Regions from separate parts of the Homo sapiens genome. Here region 2 is linked to region 1. The links come from fine-mapping of genetic effects on gene expression. A gene starts in region 1. The other region holds a variant in brackets. All regions are shown on one strand. Distances are from middle to middle. Region 1 holds the start of CEL (carboxyl ester lipase). Region 2 holds the start of GTF3C5 (general transcription factor IIIC subunit 5).

The links. PIP is the estimated chance that this variant, and not a neighbour inherited with it, causes the effect.
Region 2: its variant is fine-mapped to the expression of CEL in whole blood (TOPMed, PIP above 0.99).

What each region holds. Positions count from the first base shown.
Region 1 is chr9:133,057,558-133,065,557 of GRCh38, reverse strand. It overlaps CEL (carboxyl ester lipase), which reads right to left and starts at 3,577. Exons shown (of 11, transcript NM_001807.6): 1 at 3,490-3,577; 2 at 1,004-1,154; 3 at 796-918; 4 at 321-518. The coding sequence starts at 3,555. It overlaps GTF3C5 (general transcription factor IIIC subunit 5), which reads right to left. Exons shown (of 11, transcript NM_012087.4): 11 at 7,055-7,744. The coding sequence ends at 7,578. It overlaps LOC124902325, which reads left to right and starts at 4,226. Exons shown (of 2, transcript XM_047424377.1): 1 at 4,226-4,809; 2 at 7,384-7,477. The coding sequence starts at 4,226. The coding sequence ends at 7,477. RefSeq lists enhancers at 3,862-4,614, 4,615-5,366.
Region 2 is chr9:133,023,639-133,035,348 of GRCh38, reverse strand. It overlaps GTF3C5 (general transcription factor IIIC subunit 5), which reads right to left and starts at 4,352. Exons shown (of 11, transcript NM_012087.4): 1 at 4,185-4,352. The coding sequence starts at 4,337. LOC105376306 (a long non-coding RNA gene) reads left to right here and starts at 4,927. Exons shown (of 2, transcript NR_135119.1): 1 at 4,927-5,199; 2 at 6,918-7,197. RefSeq lists enhancers at 4,332-4,591, 4,036-4,687, 4,922-5,171. The variant G/A (reference allele first, on the strand shown) is at 4,630.

The DNA of each region.
Region 1 (8,000 bases):
AATTTTTAATTTTTGTGTAGAGATGGGGGTCTCCCAGTGATTTTCAGGCTGGTCTTGAACTTCTGCGCTCAAGTGACCCACCTGTGTGGGCCTCCTAAAGTGCTGGGATTACAGGCGTGAGCCATCTCTCCCGGCCTCTGCAGCATCTTTTATTTTACTACAGCTACCAAGGGCCTCCTGCATCTCATGATTCTACTCCAGCTTCCGGGTCTTTCTGTGAACCGCCACTGGTTGTTTGGGGTGAGGGGTGCTGAGGAAAATCTCCCTGCTGGGCTCAGCATGCTGGTCGCCCCACCTCAGGGCCGAAGGCACCCACGCACCTGGCAGATTGGCGTCCCCAGTGCTGAGGAACCCAAGGGGGCCGACACGGTAGTTGAAGGTGACCACGATGACGTTTCCGCGTGTGGCGATCTCCTCGCCGTCATACAGGTAGTTGTTGAGGAAGTTGGCCCCATGGCCGGACCCCATGAGGAAGGCGCCTCCATAGATCCAGATCATAACGGGCAGGTCCCGGGAGACTGAGATGGGGGAGCGGCTGGTGACCCCAGACGCCCCGCCTGGCCCTGTCTCCAGCCGGTCCCCTGTCCCTGTGCAGCAGGTGCCTGGGGCCAAGACAGGGAGGTGCTCCAAGGCGCTGCCCTGCCCCAGGCTGGGCAACGGCAGTGGGCGCTCCCCTCCCCGCCTCTGTGGGATTTCATGGAAGTTCAGCTTTGCAGCCCCCAGACTCAAGCCAGGAGTAGACCCGGGGCAGTGGCTGCATGGGAGGGTCCCTTGGGGAGTAGAGGGGAGGCAGACCTTGCTTCCTGCCCTGGGGCACCCAAATGTTGAGGTACAGGCAGTCTTCATCCCCGTAGGTGCTGTCCTGGGTGATGGTGGCCTGCAGGCATCTCTTCTTGAAGTTCTTGGCCTTCAGGGTCCCTGCAGGTGGCAGGAGTTGGCATGAGGAAGGCAGCCGCCCTCACCCGCCCCGCCGCAGGGCCAGTCCGGCACCACCCACTCCCACCTTGCCAGCCAGGATGTGGCTGAGGATTTTCCAGGGCCTTGGTGGGAGCTGCGAAGGGGATGCCCTTGAAGATGTCCACAGAGTCACCCAGGAGGCCGAGCTTCTTATTGACGCCTTCCACGAACCCACCTTCTGTGTACACGGCGCCCAGCTGCGAGGGAGACACGGGCAGGGTCAGGGGGGCTCAAGCCCCATCGGCCTGAATCCGGAGGGGGCAAGGCAAGCCGACTCCGCGTGCCCAGAGGCAAAGACAGCTTCAAAGCAGGACAGCTCTGCACAGGAGACCCAGGCAGCACCCCCTGCCCTGCAATGCTCAGGGCTTTAGGATTCCTGTTCCTCTCCTTATCCCTGGGGGTGTCCTGCTCCCAGAATCTTAGAGGAAACTGGTTCAACCAGTGTTCCCACTAGGGAAGCCGGCCAAGAGGTGGGATGGAGGTTTGGGTTCTGGCTATGGCCGCCCAGCTTTGACTCCGATCCTCAGTTTCCCCATGTGGAAGACGAGCAACAGCCGTGTCTCCTGTCGGCCTGTTTGCCATCACATGGGAGGCCTGTCCAGCTCCCGGGAGGAGTGTACCCAATGCTCAGTGTACCCGGGATGTTTCACACCAACCTTCCTCCTTTCTGAGGGGTGGGGCCTGCTTTTCCCTCCTCCCATCTCCCTGCACAGGGCCTAGCTGGCTGGGCACAAAGTCGATGGCCCCATGCCCAAGTCCCCACAGTTCCTGAGCCCCCTGCTGGTAAAGAACCCCCTAGGGACCACACCTCCCACCCCCGCCACGCTTCCCTGTGCCATGAAAATGGCCTCTGTGCACCAAGCTGTCCACCCCCACGAGGGGCCTGGAGGTTGGTGCTCATCCACCCTCTGTCCCTGACGGAACTGAGGCTGGGCAGCTTTTGGGCTTGAAGTCACCCTGTTGAGAAGCAGCTGTCTGCCCCAGTGCCACCTCCTGTCCATCTTGGGCAGCAGCTCCCTCTTCCCGTGGTGCATGGTGGGACCAGGTCATTGCTTGCTGGCTGTCACCTGTGCCAGGTTCCAGGTGGGGAAGGGCAGGGTGGCCCTACACCCCCAGGCCCAGCCAGGGTCCCAGCAGCCCTCTGAAGTCTAGGGTGATGGGCCCCCTGTCACACTGGTGTGGGAGAGTGCGGCGGTTGGAACTGGAGGAAAGGAACCAGAAGCAACACATGCAGGCATCGTGGGCATCCCCTGCGAGGCATCTGTGTCTCCTTGTGCCAGTGGCGTGATCCCTGTGCAATTGAGACTGGCCAGAGGGCCTCAGGGTGGGGAAATGGGGAGGGGTCGTGATGACCTGCCGAAGGCCTCTCAGCACCCCAAGAAGAGCTCGCCCAAGAAGAAGGTGACCTCTCCTTTGAGTCAGGAGCCCAGGACCACTGCCCAAACCTCCCGGTCCCAGGGCCAGGGAGTGTGGAGAGCAGGCAGCAGAGGTGGAGACAGGAGTCCCCAGGGCCTGAGACACCGCAGGCGGCAGAACAGCGTGGTTGGGATCTGGGGTCCCCTGTGTGACTCCTGCTGGGGGCAGGGACTGGGCCGGGCACCGACACCGGCTTCCTGTGGGGCTTGGGGTTTCTGTGGCTTCTCCTTCACAGGCAGAGAGGGTAGAATTTATGGATGCCTCGAGAGAGCTCCTGCCTGCCGGCTCTCTTTCTGGAGGGACCCGGACCCGGGTGTGGAGTAGCTCGGCTTTCAGCTTCCTGCACAGGAATAGGAGGCAGCAGCTGTGCCATGCTGGGCAAACTGCCTGCCTGCTTCTCTCCACCCGTCTGCCTGCTCTCCACACTCCCTGCCCCTGGGCCCGTTTCCCCTTCTGTAAAATGGGAACAACAGAGAGGTGGAATCACCAGGATTAGCAAATGTAAATTCAAGAGGCCCAGTTACATTTGAATTTCAGGTAAACAGTGAATTGTTTTTTAGTATGTTTCATTTTTTTCTTTTTCTATTTTTTGAGACAGAGTCTCGCCCTGTCACCCAGGCTGGAGTGCAGTAGCGTGATCTCAGCTCACCGCAATCTCCACCTCCCAGCTTCAAGCGGTTCTCCTGCCTCAGCCTCCCGAGTAGCTGGGATTACAGGCACCCACCACCACGCCCGATTAATATTTGTATTTTTAGTAGAGACGGGGTTTCACCATGTTGGCCAGGCTGGTCTCCAACTCCTGACCTCAAGTGATCCACCCACCTCGGCCTCCCAAACTGGTGGGATTGCAGGTGTGAGCCACTGCGCCCGGCCCATAGAAATTTGTTTCAAATATTGCATGGGACATACTTACACAGCAGTTCTTGGCAGTTTATCTGAAATTCAAATGGAATTGGGCATCCTGTGTTCTACCTGGCACCTGTCCCCATAGAAATGAGCGTGAGTGCCCGGGATCTGCTGCGGGGCTGTGCTGGGCTCTTTCTCAGCCTGGCCCGAAGTTTCCAGATCTGATTGAGCGAGAGAGCAGCAGGACCTGCCCCTCTGCTGGGCTCTTACCTTCGCGGCACTCGCCACTGCCCAGCAGCAGGTGAGGCCCAACACAACCAGTTGCAGGCGCCCCATGGTGAGCATCAGCCTCTGGGTGGCCCTCCCCCTGGGCCTCGGGTATTTATGGAGCTGGATCCAAGGTCACATGCTTGTTCATGAGCTCTCAGGCACTCCCTCCCCTCTACCCCCTCAGGTGCAGGGAGATCCAGTTTTCCCCAAACCCACAGTGCACCTGTGCAGGTTACCACTTACCTGGGAGCAGAGGCAGGTGGCAAGGTGGCGGGTGGTAAGGGGGATGGTGGGGCCGGGCAGGGTGCACAGTGCCCTGCCTTCTGGTTTGTTCACAGGGCTTGGTGTCACTGTCAGAGAAAAGGGCATACTTTGTCTCCATGTCTCCATGCCCTGCTTGTCCCCTAGGTCCCCAAAGGGGCTTCAGAGGGGACCGAGCACGTGACTTCTGGGACAGAAAGGGCAGCATGCTGCAGGCCCTCCACTCATGTGGCTGACCTTATCTGTACGAGCTTTTCCTGGGGCCCGTGGAGCGGGTAGTCCAAGCTGGGTGCGAATCCCAGAGCAGCACAAGGCAGTCCCACTCAAGGGTGTGGAAGTGTCACCATCCAGCCTGATGTGTCCTGGGAGGGAGGACTAGAGGCTCAGGGGGTGTGGGTGGGGGGGTGCGGAGGCATCTAGCCCAACCATGTAGGTTTCCCTGTGGAAACAAAGGGCCCAGCCGAGGCCCTGGGGCATGCCCAGGCAGAGTGACAGAAGGGGAGGGAAAGAGGCCAGTGGGAGGGAAGGGAGAAGGTCGTGTGAGGTTGTGGAGGAGGAGGCGACTCGTATTTTCTGTGAACAGGTATTAATCCTGGAGCCAGGAAAGGCTCTGAGAAGTGAAAGAACACCACGAACAAAGTCTTCAGATGGGGCCTTTAAGCTCAGCCAGTGTGAGGTCACCCTCACCGAGACACTCAGTGGCAGCTCCAGCCACCGCACAGCCCTCTGCAGTGATGGGAACAGGGTGAGGGCAGCCAGAGCCTTCCCACCCAACAGTCCCCCAGGAGACACTGGGGCCTGTGCTTCCCACACCAACCACACTCCCGTTCTGCCACCCCTGCGGCCGGTGCCAGGGACCGAGTGGACCTGCAGAGCCACGTCTGTCCCTCTGTCTGTCGACCACAGCCGGTGCCAGCAATTCAGGAGGCCTAGTGGGCGAGGGAGGCTGGGGAAAGGACTGGAGGGTGGGAGGAGGAGCTCGGCCACAGGAAATAAGGGGCCTGCAGGTGGCTGGGGCGCCCCAGGGCAAAGGCATTTGCCTCAGACCTTTGCTGCAGTGTCATTTACAGTGGCTAAGGAGGAAAGGGGAGGGCAGAGGGGAGGCAGCAGGGAGAGGAAGGAGGTGGGGGAGGGCTGGGGCAGGGCAGAGGGAAAGGAAGGCCCCAGTTTATATCTATGTACATTTTTAGAGCAGCTTTAGGTTCACAGCAAAATTAGAGGAAGATTACAGAGATTTCCCGTATGTCCTCGCCCCACTCCAGTCTCCCCCGTTATCAACATCCCCCACCAGGGGGTACAGCTGTTAACACCTGATGAATCCACATTGACATGTCATTATCACCCGGAGTCCACAGAGGTTTTTTGTTTGTTTGTTTTTTTGAGACAGGGTCTCTGTCACCCAGGCTAGAGTGCAGTGGCACAATCATAGCTCACTGCAGTCTTGAACTCCTGGGTTCGAGGGATCCTCCTGCTTTAGCCTCTGAAGTAGCTGGGATTACAGGCGTGCGCCATCACACCCAGCCGATTTTTGTATTTTTAGTAGAGACTGGGTTTCACCATGTTGGCCAGGCTGGTCTCAAACTCCTGAGCTCAAGTGATCTGCCCGCCTCAGCCTCCCAAAGTGCTGGGATTACAGGCATGAGCCACCGTGCCCAGCCTCATACTTTATTTTTTTAAAATTGGCAAAAAAAAAAAAAAAAAACTTATTTCCTGGCTCTGTCTCTTCCAAAGCCCTAGCAGTAACGAAATCCCAGGAGCAAGCCCCACCCCTGGTGACCAGACTGGGGTCTCTAAACACCATATTCACACCGACTGAGTGCACCCTGGGGAGATGGTTGGGCCGGGTCCGCAACAGGAAATGCCAGGGAGGGGCTGGAGCCTGCAGCATCGTGGTAGCTGTAAGTAAGGAAGGTGCCCAAGACCCAAGGCTTGTGTCAAAGGACTACAGAGGTCAACCTGAGGCCGCCTCTGGGCAAAGATAGACAAGTTGGGCATGAAAAAGCAAGCCTGCAATTGACAGACGTGAGAGTTCACCAGGCAGCCCAGGAAACACGCTCTCCACCCCCTCCTGCCCTGTCACTGGCCCTTGCCAGGGCACTAACTCATTGTTCTGAAAACTGTTAGAGGTGATAACAGGCATTTTCCCTTCTTTTCTGTGAAAATAGTATTTCAGGGTAATCAAACAGACGATGAGGAAGATTCCTTTATAGGATTCCAGCTACTAAATGCAGAGGGAACGATATAATTCAAAAAAATCACCATTTTGCACCCTTAAGGAAGTAGTAGGTCCAGGCAATTATCAACGGCTATTCAAAAGCCATTAAATAGGCTGGACGCAGTGGCTCACACCTGTAATCCCAGTACTTTGGAAGGCTGAGGCGGGAGGATCCCTTGAGCCCAGCCTGGACAACATTAGTGAGACCTCATCTCTACAAAAATTCAAAAATTATCTGGGCATGGCGGTACACAACCTGTAGTTCCAGCTACTCAGGAGGCTGAGGTGGAAGGATCACCCGAGCCCAGGAGGTTGAGGCTGCAGTGAGCCCTGATTGCATCACTGCACTCCAACCTGGGTGACAAAGCAAGACCATCTCAAAAAAAAAAAAAAGACCCACAAATGAAACAAAAAACCACAGAAACCCAAAAACCGTTAGATAAAAGACCAACACATCAGGCTGACAACACCTAAACCTGCTGGTCAATCCTAGTAAGCAGACCTCCCGTGCATGCAGACTGACGCAGCCTAGGAAGAGACCTTGAACCCGAATCTGGCTGAGCCTCCACCTGTCCCCAGGAAATACAGGGGAGAGAGGAGCAGGTTCAGCACCACACAGAAGCAACCAGCCAATCCAGAACAGGGCCATTCTCTGACAACTGACTGTTTCTTCAACAAATACTCGGCACGCACACAGGTTGGGAGGGAGTGCTGCTGCCGACTTGGGGAGACACAAGAGGTGCCTCAGCCAAGGGCAACATGGGGAGCGGGGCCAGGCAGGCAGGCTCGGTGGGCTCAGGACCCACTAGTTTCACACTGGGCAGCCACAGGACAGCAGGGCCCGTTTCCCATGACTTTGTCAAGAAGGTATTCATTTAGAGAAGAACTGACCCCAGGCCTGGAGTCCTCCTAGCTGCCCTCACCCAACCCGACCACATGTGAGGGGGGCACAGGCCAGCACTGCCAGCATGTCACTGAATGAATGAAGGAATGAATGAAGGAATATATGAAGGGACAAAGGGGGCCCAAGCCCCAAGGCAATAAGAAGACTCCCCTGCAGCGCCAACATTCACACCAAGAAACCAAGACTTCTCGGGAAACTGGTTTAATAAGGACAATTCCAGAGGGGCCTGGCTGTGGCCAAAGCTGTGCCAAACGGTTGGGATCCAGAGCTAAAGGCACTTCTTGCCACGTGAGACCATGGGCGAGGCTCCCCACGCTATCTCCACCACCACAGTCATGAGAGCCAAGCGAGACTGGCCTGTGGCCTGGGGCTCCACAGCTGCCCAGCTCCACCTCCGGCATTTACTGGTCTCATCCTGAGAGGCATTGGGTGCCCACTCACTGGCTGGATGCTGGGCTGGTTCATGGGTGGCAGAGCCAGGGTATACCCTTTGGGGATGTCCCTAACCCCTCAGGACCAGAGGCAGCACCAAGCAGCATGTCACAGCCAGTGCTAGGGTCAGCTGCACCCTTTGCTGGGACTCTAGCTCTCCTCAGAGGGCCTCCTAGGGCCATTCCGGGCACTGTGGGTGGCAATGGGGAGCCCCGGCTCCCTCATTAGGCCAGACACCAGTCTGGCCGGGTCAGGGAGGCCCAGCCTTGGGCCCTGTCACACGTAGTCCAGAATCTCTGTCTCCATTTCGTTTTCACTGCCGTCGGATGGCTTGAAGTCCTCCTCCTCCTCTTCCTCCTCCTCCTCATCCTCCTCGTCTTCCCCAGACTCGTACGTCAGCTGCTCTTTTCCGCCATCAGCCTTGGCTGAGCTGGAAAAGAGAGCTGGGGCCGGAGGAGACAAGGCCATGGGTGTCCCATGCAGGCTGCCGGGTGGCCCCAGAAAGGCCACCAGGCTCTGGGGAGCCTGTTTACTACTATAAGGGTCCGAGCTCGAGCTCTTAAGAAGCTGGTGGGTAAGTATGGGGTGGAGGCCCCCCAGGGAAGCTGTAGTTTGACGGGCACCCAGGGGAATCCTGCAGCAGGGGAGCCATGAGCAGCTTCAAGGGCCCATGGACCCTCAGGAGTGAACACACCATTT
Region 2 (11,710 bases), 32 kb after region 1:
GTTAAGACCGTCCCAAAGTGTCCAAATTGATTACACCGAAATGCCCCCAGTCGGTTGCCTAAAGTACTTATTAGTGATAGTAGATCACCTTACGCACTGGAGGGAACCTATTCCCTTTTCAAGTGCAACTGCTAATAATGTAATTAAAGCATTGATTGAGAATATTATACCCAGGTTTAACAGATTAATACAAAATATTGATTCAGATAATGGGACTCATTTCACTGCACATGCCGTCAAGAAACTAGCCCAAGTACTAGACATAGCAGGGGAATACCACACTCCCTGGCACCCACCTTCATCAGGAAGAGTGGAGAGAATGAACCAAACTCTGAAGAGTCACTTAACCAAATTAGTCTTAGAGACTCGGTTGCCATGGACTAAATGCCTTCCCATTGCCTTGTGAAAAATCCGAACTGCCCCTTGGAAAGATGTTGGCTTATCCCCTTATGAAATGCTATATGGGTTGCCTTATCTACACTCCATTGCTGACATTGCTACGTTTGAAACAAAGATCAGTTTCTTAAAAACTATAAACTTGGTCTCTCCTCCACTTTTTCTTCCCTCAGGACTGAAGGCCTCTGAGCACAGACGCCAGCTCTAGAGTTTCCAGCACACCAGCATCAGCCTGGGGATCACGTTCTCATCAAAAGCTGGAAGGAGGGAAAACTTGAACCAGCTTGGGAAGGGCCTTATCTGGTACTCTTAACTACTGAAACAGCGATTCGAACGGCTGAAAAGGGATGGGCACACTACACGCCAGGTGAAAGGAGTAATGTCCACAGACAGGGAAAAATGGGCTGTCACCCCGGGACCCACCCCTACCAAACTAACCCTAAAAAGGGCTTAATAATCACTTGTCTATTTTTCCTTTTCTTTCCAACATAAGGTCATCTTGTCATCAATGTGACTCAGGCTAACCATCCCTTGACCCTTCAGTTCGACACTTGTTCTTACCCCGTGCAGATACGAACAAGCTCAAAGGCAGCTATCCGATGTAGTTAAGTATCCATGTCCATATCGCAGACAGTCAAACAAGTATAAGTATGGAGCCTTAAAGGGCCCCTGTGGTGACTGGGCAAATGTTTGGTGGACCAGTCAATATGGGAGGCGGACAGCCAACCCCCCTCCTTTAAATAAGTTGCGGAAACTCAAACAAAAACTCTAACTTATCCATCGCTCCACTCCACCAAATTGTAAGCCACTGCGGTGTAACCCCTTATTGCTAATTATAGATAATCCCCAAACAATGGCCCAAGAACCCTCTGTATTCGGACGGTACGGGTTAGGAGCAGATGTTACAGGACGGGATCCCATAGGAACCCTCTCTAAGGTTGACTGGACCATCGGCGGTTAAAAACAATGAAGAAACCCAGACCCAGAGTCCAGGGAACGTATGGGACCCAACGCTCTCCCCAAACATATCAGGCCCAGTGTTCCCCTCCGGTCTCCACAACGACCCAGCCAAAGTAGCAGCTGTAGAAGTAAGAGACCTAAAGCAAACTCTAGCAATTGAAACAGGGTACTGAGATGCAAACGCCTGGATGGAATGGATTAAATATTCTGTCCGCACTTTAAACAAAAGTGATTGTTACACTTGTGCACACAGTAGACCAGAAGCCCAGACTGTCCCCTTTCCACTTGGATGGTCCTCCAGACGAGTGGGCATGGGCTGTACGGTAGCTCTTTTCCAGGACCCCACAGCCTGGGGTGATAAATCGTGCCGAGCTCTCTCTCTGCTGTTCCCTGAGGTTCAACACCCTGCGGGTCAGCCCCTGAGGGCTATCCAGCTTCTGTCTCCCAGTGCCAATTTTACTTTGTGTCTCTTGTGACAGGGAAAATTTGGCATTCCTTGGGGACCTAACAGGATGCAGTGAGCTTAAGCCCTTCCAAGAGCTTACCCATGAATCTGCCCCTAGTCATTTATCCTGAGCAGATGTATGGTGGCATTGTGGTGGACCGTAACTGGATACTCTGCCAAGTAACTGGAGCGGTACCTGTGCTCTGATCCAATTGGCCATCCCTTTCACTCTGGCATTTCATCAACCAGAAGAAGTAAAAACAAGACACCGTAGAGTAAGAGATGCCCCCCGTGGTTCCTTTGACCCTCGTGTTTATACAGATGCCACTGGAGTTCCCCGAGGGGTACCTGATGAATTTAAGGCTTGTAATCAAATAGCTGCGGGATTTGAGTCTATGTTTTTCTGGTGGTTAACTATAAATAAAAATGTAGATTGGATAAGTTACATCTATTACAACCAGCAACAATTTGTTAATTATACTAGGAATGCTATCAAAGGAACAGCTGAACAACTAGGACCCACCAGTCAAATGGCTTGGGAAAATAGAATAGCATTAGAAATGATACTAGCAGAGAGGGGTGGCGTTTGTGTCATGCTTGGAACCCAATGTTGTACTTTTATCCCAAATAATACTGTTCCTGACGGAACCATAACAAAGGCACTGCAAGGTCTTACTGCTTTATCCAATGAGCTAGCTTAAAATTCTGGGATAAACGATCTCTTCACTGATCTAACGGGAAGATTGTTCGGCAGGTGGAAAGGACTTATGTCCTCGATCCTTATGTCCCTTGCCATTGTAATAAACGTGTTTATTCTCGTAGGATGTTGTATCATACCCTGTGCCTGAGGGTTAATACAAAGACTTACGGAGACAGCTCTCACTAACCTCCAATTTCCCCCCGCCTTATTCAGACAAACTTCTACTTTTAGAAAACCAAGAACAGCAAAGTCGAGACATGCTAAAAAGGTTTGAAGAGAAAGAAGTATGAAAATCAAGAGGGGGAAACTGTTCTATACAGTGAATTCTTCTTCAAAGGTTCAGCTTGTTCAACTCCCTTGTTCTTTGTTCTCCATCTTCAAAGTCTAACTTCCTTGTTCTTTGTGCCTCCTTGCCCTTAGTTACCCGCTCTGTTTAACTGCCCTTCCCGCCGAAACTAGTCTTCCCACCGAAATCGCTCGTCCCGTCACTGTAACCCACACCCCTGTTCTATTTAAAATAGCCAATTGAGATTAGCTTAGATTGTGTGGTCCAACTCCAACCAGCAGGGACAGGACACAAAAACAGGGACTGACTGCCTTAGGGATAAAAACCCATTCCAGGCTGGGCACGGTGGCTCACGCCTATAATCCCAGCACTTTGGGAGGCCAAGACGGGTGGATCACCTGAGCTCAGGAGTTCAAGACCAGCCTATAGGACACAGTAAATTCCACTTCAAAGATTTTAGCCTTTTACCTTCCTTTAAATTCAAGAGGGGGAAAATTAATAAATACAATGAGTTATGAGTTCCATTTCAAAGAACCAATATGTCAGTATGTTCAGCTTCCCTGTTCTTTGTTCTCCATTTTAAAGTTTAACCCCTCGTTCTTTACGCCTCCTTGCCCCTAGTTTCAGTAAACAACCCCTTCCTAGCTTCTATCACCTGCTCTGTCCTTAGTCATCCTGAGTCACCTGCTCTGTAACCATCCTTCCCACCAAAACTACTCACCCCGCCACTCAGGCCTGTGCCCCTGCCCTCTTTGAAATAACCAATCGGAATTAGCTTAGACTGTGCGGTCCAACCCTAGCCAATATGGGAAAGACACAGCAGTAGAGACTAGCTGTGTAAGAGATAGGAACCCCTTCCCCTTCCTTGTCGGTGTGCTCTCGCCATTGCTCCATCCGCAAGATGCACCCTTCTATAGAAGGAAATTTGCCTTGCTGAGAAAACTGTTTGCCAGAGTGCTGATTCTTCTTTGCGGCACCCAAAATTTATTTCCAACAAGCCTGACCAACATGGTGAAACCCCCTCTCTACTAAAAAATACAAATTTAGCCGGGCGTGGTGGCATGCGCCTGTAATCCCAGCTACTCTGGAGGCTGAGGCAGGAGAATCGCTTGAACCCTGGAGGCGGAGGTTGCAGTGAGCCAAAATCGCACCACCGCACACCAGCCTGGGAAACAAGAGCGAAACTCCGCCTGAAAAACCAACAAAAAAACAAAAACAAAAACAAAAATCCTTCCCTTCTTTGTTCTGTTGGCTCTCTTGCAGCGGCCAGAAGAGCGAGCAGCACCCTTCTGCGTAAGTAAATTTGCTAAATTTCCCTTGCTGAGAAATCCTTTGAGTGCTCGTTTTCTTTGCGACTCCGAGCTCTTATTCCAACACCGAGATTCCCAGCCCCTTACCCGGGAGACGCCTTCCTCGCCGCCCAGAGTCGGCAGCATCTTAGCCACATCACGCACCACTCCCGGGTACTCCACGCACACCATGCGTCGCTCCCGCCTCAGCTCCACGGGGACGGCGGCCCCCAGCCCCAAATCGGCCGCCTCCGCCGCCATCCCTGTGCGTCTGGCAGGGCCCGCCAGGGTCCGTCCCACAAAGTACTCCCAAAGGCCTCGCCTCAATTGTTCCGCGAAGGAATCGTTCCGGGCTCCCTCACCGCTCGCGTCATCCTAACTCCCCGGGCTCAGCAAGACGCGAGGGCCTCCAGGGAGCAAATGGCCCATGGGAGGGCCCATGTCTTCGGGAAAACGACCGCCGTGTCCTCGACTTTTTATTTAAAATTAAGCGAGTTAGTCCACCGGGCGGGGCAAGCACCAGTCTCTCCTACTAGCCAGCGAGGGACCCGGA[G/A]GATAATAAGACACAAACCTCCCTCGACTTCAGCCAATGAGAATCCGAGGGCCGAGCGAGTTTTTTTTTGAGCCAATGAGAAGTCCGGAGGAAGCTAGGTCCCACCTTCTCCTCCAGCTTCGTACGTTTTAACCAATAAAGAACTAGAGTTAACCACGTCCCAGCCCTCTTCTGGGTATTCCACCCAATGACACCTCGGGGGCGGGCCAGAGGCAGACTTCCGGCCCGCCTGCTTGGTGGGGAAAAGGTCCCGGCTGAGAATTGATTTCCGCATTGGGTCGGCCTGGTATTCTGTCGGTGTTGGCGCTTCTTCTCCCAAGCTCTTGCAGCCCCCTCGGGACTAGGTTTCCAACGGCGCTTGCGGGGGGCCTCGCGGAGGTGGATGTGGAAAAGGCGAGCGCGGGGGAACTGTGCTGTAACCATCGCCCCGCCTCCACAGAAAGCCCCGAAGCGCCGGCTCGGGGCCGAACGCGGGCATCCGGCGTTCGTCTGTTAGGCAGGCAGACATTAAGCGCCTACTGTGTGCTGGGCCCTACTCAAGACCCAGGCGGGGAGAACGGCGTCTGTCCGGTAGGCGCCCAGGGCTGCTGCAAAGCCCCGGAGCGAGGAGTGTGGCCCCTCAAACAGGGAGGAGATGAGGTCCGAGGCCGACCGAGGTCAGAGACCCGCACCCACGAAAAGGGTCCACCCGTCGGGCTGGCTGCTTCCCAGTGCCGTGGAGAGCCCCTGAAGGTTTCTTTTTTTGAGAAGGAATCTCGCTGTGTCGCCCAGGCTAGAATGCAGTGGCGCTTTCTCGGCTCACTGCAACCTCCGCCTCGGGTTCAAGCTATTCTCGTGCCTCAGCCTCCCGAATAGCTGGGATTACAGGCGCCTGCCACCATGCCCGGTTAATTTTTGTATTTTTAGTAGAGACGAGGTTTCACCATGTTGGCCAGGCTGGTCTTGAACTCTTGACCTCAAATGATCCGCCTGCTTCGGCCTCCCCAAGTCCTGGGATTACAGGCGTGAGCCACCGCGCCTGGCCCCTTGAAGGGTTTTATGCGGAGCAGTGATCCCATTCATGCATTTGAAAGACCTCTCTGGCTGTTGTGTGGAGAACAGATCAAAGGGGGAGAAAGTGAGTTCAGATAAACCAGCTCCGAGACTGCATAATCCAGTCAAGAGATGAAGGGACTGGGTTTGAGAATATTGGGAGATGAGAATCATGGCCCAGCACAGTGGCTCACGCCTGTAATCCCAGCACTTTGGGAGGCTGAGGCGGGAGGATCAGTTGAGCCCAGCAGTTGGAGGCCAGCCTGGGCAACAGGGGAAGACCCCATTTCTACCAAAAAATACAAAATTAGCCGGCCATGGTGGTGCATGCCACAGTAGTCCCAACTACTCAAAAGGCTGAGGCAGGAGGATCCTTTGAGCCCTGGAGTTGGAGGCTGCAGTGAGCTATGATCATGCCACTTGCATTACAGCTAGAAATTAGTAAGAGCAAGTGACCCCTTGGGTATGGGTACCCCGTTTCTGAAGTGATTTTTTTTTTTGAAAGACACGATCTCCCTCTGTCACCCAGGCTGGAGTGTAGTGGTGTGATCATGGCTCACTGCAGCCCCGAACTCCTGGGCTCAAGTGATCCTCCTGCCTCAGCCTCCTGAGTAGTTGGGACTACAGGCGTGCACCACCATACCCGACTAATTTTGTATTTGTGTGTGTGTGGCGACGGGGTCTCACTATGTTGCCTAAAGTCATTTCTTTTTGTTGTTTGTTTGTTTTGAGACAGAGCCTCACTCTGTCACCAGGCTGGAATGCAGTAGCACAATCTCGGCTCACTGCAACCTCCGACTCCCTGGTATAAGCGATTCTCCTGCCTCAAACTCCCGGGTAGCTGGGATTATAGGCATGCGCCACCACGCCCAGCTAATTTTTGTATTTTTAGTAGAGATGGGGTTTCACCATGTTGGCCAGGATGGTCTCGATCTCCTGACATCATGATCTGCCCACCTCGGCCTCCCAAAATGCTGAGATTACAGGCGTGAGCCACCGTGCCCAGCCTGTGATTTCTTAATCAGAAGAGTACCTGATTGCTCTCCTTGGGTTTAAGAAGGCAGAATAAATAGCTACATGAATTCAGCCCACTGAATACATTCTAAAGTGTAACCTCAATGTGAAATATATTGTATTGTAATTGGAAGGCTGGGTCAGGAGCCCCAAAGCTTTGAAAGAACACCTCCTGAGAGTACAGTGGGAAATCAACCACCAGCAGATGATGGTTGAGCTAGAAGAACCACGTGTTTCCACAGGGAGCTGCACACGAGGACCCGGTGGTCCCTGACCTGCCCTCTCCAGGGGGGACCTGCACTTTCTGCCACCAAAGAGGATTCTCTGTAGGGAGGCCAGGATGATTCTCCAGAATTTACCATGCCTTGAGATGAAATTTCCTTTCAAACTTCCTTGTGTCCTTTTGTCCTCATTCCATGTTCACCAGTCTTCTGACTGTTTCATTTTCCAGAAAGGAGAAACTGAATAACATGTATATTTTAACCTTGCCTGCAATTGTAAATCAATAAATTGGTGTATTTACATCAGATCCCTGTGAGTTTGGTGCACATAAGACAGTCATGAAGACTTGGTCACTGTTGGTAGAGTTGGCCAATAAAATATTGAACACAGTTAAATTTGAATTCATGCAATATTTGGGGCATATTTATACTAAATATGTGTTATCTGAGATTCATATTTAGCTAGGTGATTTTTTAATTTGCTAAATATGGCACTCCCACCTCCGGGTATTGAGATTGAGTTTCTGAATTTGGAAAGCTGATTCCAAACCACCTGGAACCTTAGTGAGCCCACCATGCAATCCAGTGACCCTCTAGTTTGTCTGCTGTATTTTTCCTCCTTACTGAAGCAAGAGTGATCTTTCCAGAATGAGATCGCAGTCTGTCCCTGCCTCCAGTGACTCCCCAGCATCCCTGGCCCACCACCTGGCTAACTACTCCTCTCCTTTAGGTTGTTGCCTTAGACTTCAATTTGCCTGGTAAATCCTCCCTGACCCCAAAACACTAGTTTGGTGCCATCCTCGCTGCCCGGGGCCCCAAACCCACTGCATCATGGAGCCGGAAGCACTATTATTTTTTTTCTTTTTTACTTCTCCACTTGAGTGGCAACTTTCTGAAGACAGGGACCATGTCTGTCTTATTCACCACTGTCTTCCCACTGTCACCACTGCTTTGCATGGGGCTGAGCACCGAGCAGGTGCTCAGGAAGTATTTATTGAACAACTGAATGAGGCCACTTGTCTTATTTGAGCCTTCAATCGAGCCCCGGGTCAGGGCATGGTCATAGGGACACTAAATCAAGGCTTGTCAGACAAGGAGTGTCCCTTAGTGCACAGGAAGTGAGGAGGGGCTGAGTGTGAGGGGAAGACAAGGGACCAACCCCAGGGCATCAGACCAAGCTTTTTGAGATTAGACTTGGTCCTGCCTGAGATCCAAAGCGGGAGGTCAGAGGCAGGAGCAGTAAGGCAAGGCTGGGAGCAGAGACAGGCCAAGAAAGATCAGGAACCCAGTTAAAAAGTAGCTTTGGCTGGGAGCGGTGGCTCATGCCTGTAATCCCAGCACTTTGGGAGGCTAAGGCGGGTGGATCACTTGAGGTCAGGAGTTCGAGACCAGCCTGGCCAACATAGTGAAACCCCATCTCTACTAAAAATACAAAAATTAGCCACATGTGGTAGCACATGCCTGTAATCTCAGCTACTCGGGAGGCTGAGGCAGGAGTCTCGCTTGATCCCAGGAGGCAGAGGTTGCAGTGTGCAGAGATCATGCCACTGCACTCCAGCCTGAGTGACAGAGTGAGACTCCATCTCAAAAAAAAAAAAAAAAAAAAAAAAAGAAGTAGCTTTAACGTTCTCCAAAACCTTGCAGCATTCAGAGCAGGCAGCTGTGACAATATTTGTGCACTGAGGGGACACTTTCTCTGCCTGGATTCAGGGCATATGCTATGGTTTGAAAATGTCCCCCAAATTTCATGTGTTGGAAACTTAATTTGTCTGCCCTCATGAATAAATTAATGTTGGCTCTGCCCTCATGCATGGATTAATGTCGCTGTTGTGGGAGTGAGTTGCTTATCTCTTTGTTATAGAGGCAAGCTCTCTCCGGCTCTCTCTCTCCTGCCCTCTTGCATATGTGCCCTCCACCATGTTATGGCACAGCAAGAATGCAAAGACCCTTAGCAGATGCTGCCACCGTGTCCTTGAACTTCTCAGCTTCCAGAACTACAAGAAACAAATGTTTTTCCTGTAGGAATTACCCAGTCTGGGATATTCTGTTATAACAGCAGAAAACAGACTAACGCAGCATGCTTCTCGCATCTTGCCCTGCTGTGGGGTGGCAGATTTCATCCCACTGGACAGAAGGGCACTACAGCTCTAGCCACCTCCTATGGGCGGATTGGGCACACTGGGGGTGGGGGGCAGCCTCTATGTGCCACTTCCACACGGGAGAGATTCGGAGCTCCTGAAGGACGCTTGGGTGCTGCAACCAGCGTTTGTTGCTCAGGGAAAGGGTGGATGTAGGGACCAGCCCTACAGGGTCTGTGGGTTTTTCTCCCCTTGTGCGGAGACGAGAGATCGTAGAAATAAAGACACAAGACAGAGAGATAAAAGAAAAGACAGCTGGGCCTGGGGGACCACTACCACTGAGACGTGGAGACTGGTAGTGGCCCCGAATGCCAGCCTGTGCTGTTATTTATTGGATACAAGACAAGCGGGCAGGGTAAGGAGTGTGAGCCACCTCCAATGATAGGTAAGGTAACGTGGGTCACGTGTCCACTGGACAGGGGGCCCTTCCCTATTTGGCAGCCAAGGTGGAGAGAAAGAGAGGGAGGAGACAGCTTACACCATTATTTCTGCATATCAGAGACTTTTAGTGCTTTCACTAATTTTGCTACTGCTATCTAGAAGGCAGAGCCAGGTGTACAGGATGGAACATGAAAGCGGACCAGGAGCATGACCGCTGAAGCACAGCATCACAGGGAGACGGTTAGGCCTCCGGATAACTGTGGGCGGGTCAGGCCCTCAACAAGAGGTGGTGGAGTAGAGTCTTCTCTAAACTCCCCCAGGGAAAGGGAGACTCCCTTTCCCGGTCTGCTAAGTAGCCGGTGCTTTTCCTTGGCACTGATGCTACTGCTAGAACACGGTCCGCTTGGCTACGGGCGTCTTCCCAGACGCTGGCATTACCGCTAGACCAAGGAGCCCTCTGGTGGCCCTGTCTGGGTGTGACAGAGGGCTCATGCTCTTGTCTTCTGGTCACTTCTCACCATGTCCCTTCAGCTCCTATCTCTGTATGGCCTGGCTTTTCCTAGGTTATGATTGTAGAGCGAGGATTATTATAATAGTTGAATAAAGAGTAATTACTACAAACTGATGATTAGTGGTACTTACATATATCTATGATCTATATGTAGTATAACTCTTGTTATTTTATATATTTTATTATACTGGAACAGCTTGTGCCCTCGGTCTCTTGCCTTGGCACCTGGGTGGCTTGCTGCCCACAGGTGGGGACCCCTGGCACAAGACACAGAAGGGTGCATCTTCCACCACCACCCCTTGGAGCTGAGCTCCTCTTTCCAGACTCAGGGACCCTCCTGCTGAAGGGACCGAGGAGCTGGCCCCCTCGGGGATGGTTTGGGTTTTAGGAGGAATCTTGGCCTTAGACAGGACCTGGTAGAAGTTTTGCCATTGAGAAGCTTTGAGCTGCTGTTGGCATGAGGAGGGAGGATGAGTCCGCTTCGCCCGTTGGGCCTCACTTCTGTGCATGGGCACTGCCCTGCTTGGTTTGAACATTTTTTCAGCTTAAATGTTTAATTTCCTGTGACGTGAGTCGGGGGGGGGGGCGGAATTGGATCTTACTGTCACCTTGCTACCGGACTGCTGGCCTCCAGAACTCTGAAAATCACATTTGTGTTGTGTTTTCAGTCACCCAGTGTGTGGCGATTTCTCACAGTCACCTTAGGAGATGAATACAGATCAGGGAGTCCTTGAATTTCCAGAGCATTTCCAGAATTTATTTTTGGGTCATAACATTTTCTTTTTTTTTTCTTTTTCTTTTTGAGACGGAGTCTTGCTCTGTTGCCTAGGCTGGAGGACAGTGGCATGATCTCGGCTCACTGCAACCTCCACCTCCCAGGTTCAAGCAATTATCCTGCCTCAGCCTCCCAAGTAGTTGGGACTGCAGGACGATGCCACCTCACCTGGCTAATTTTTGTATTTTTATTAGACACGGGGTTTCACCATGTTGGCCAGACTGGTCTCGAACTCCTGACCCCATGATCCACCTGCCTCAGCCTCCCAAAATGCTGGCATTACAGGCGTGAGCCACTGCGCAGGGCCGAGTCATAACATTTTCTGGCATAAGCAGGTCAGGTTTTCTTCTCTTAAGTTACTGGAGCTCACTCACTATAAATCAGGCCTCCCCGCTTCATTCTTTACCCCTCCTATGGGGCCAGAGACCACCCATTTCCAGGCTGGGGGTCCTCTTTGAGTTACTGACCGTCACTGGGGGCACATGGTGTAAATGTCGCAGCGCAGCCTGGGTGGCTGAATTGCAGCAAGTGTTGTCCCCACCCACTCTCCAGACTATATGTTAAAACTCTAACTCCCTGAGCTGGTATTAGGAGTTGCTGCCTTGGGAGGTGATGAGGTCACGAGTGTGGAGCCCTCGTGGCGGGATTAGTGCCCTCATAGAGGAGACAAGAGTGCGTGCTCACTCCACTCTGCTGTGTGAGGTCACAGCAAGAAGGCGGTCGCCTGCCAGCCAGGAAGAGGACCTTCGCCAGACCCTGTATCTGCCCGCACCTTGACCTGGGACTTCCCAGCCTCCAGAACTGTGAGAAACAAATTTCTGTTGTTTAAGCCCCCGAGTCTATGACATTTTTGTTCTAGTAGCCTGAACTAAGACCGGTCACTTCACAGCAGCCATTCAGACATCCATTTACCAAATGCTCCCCGCGATGTGCCCGATCCTGTGCTGGGCTCGGATGATGAAGCCGAGAGGACCGCCCCCCTCCGCCCTCACGGAGCTCACATTTGATT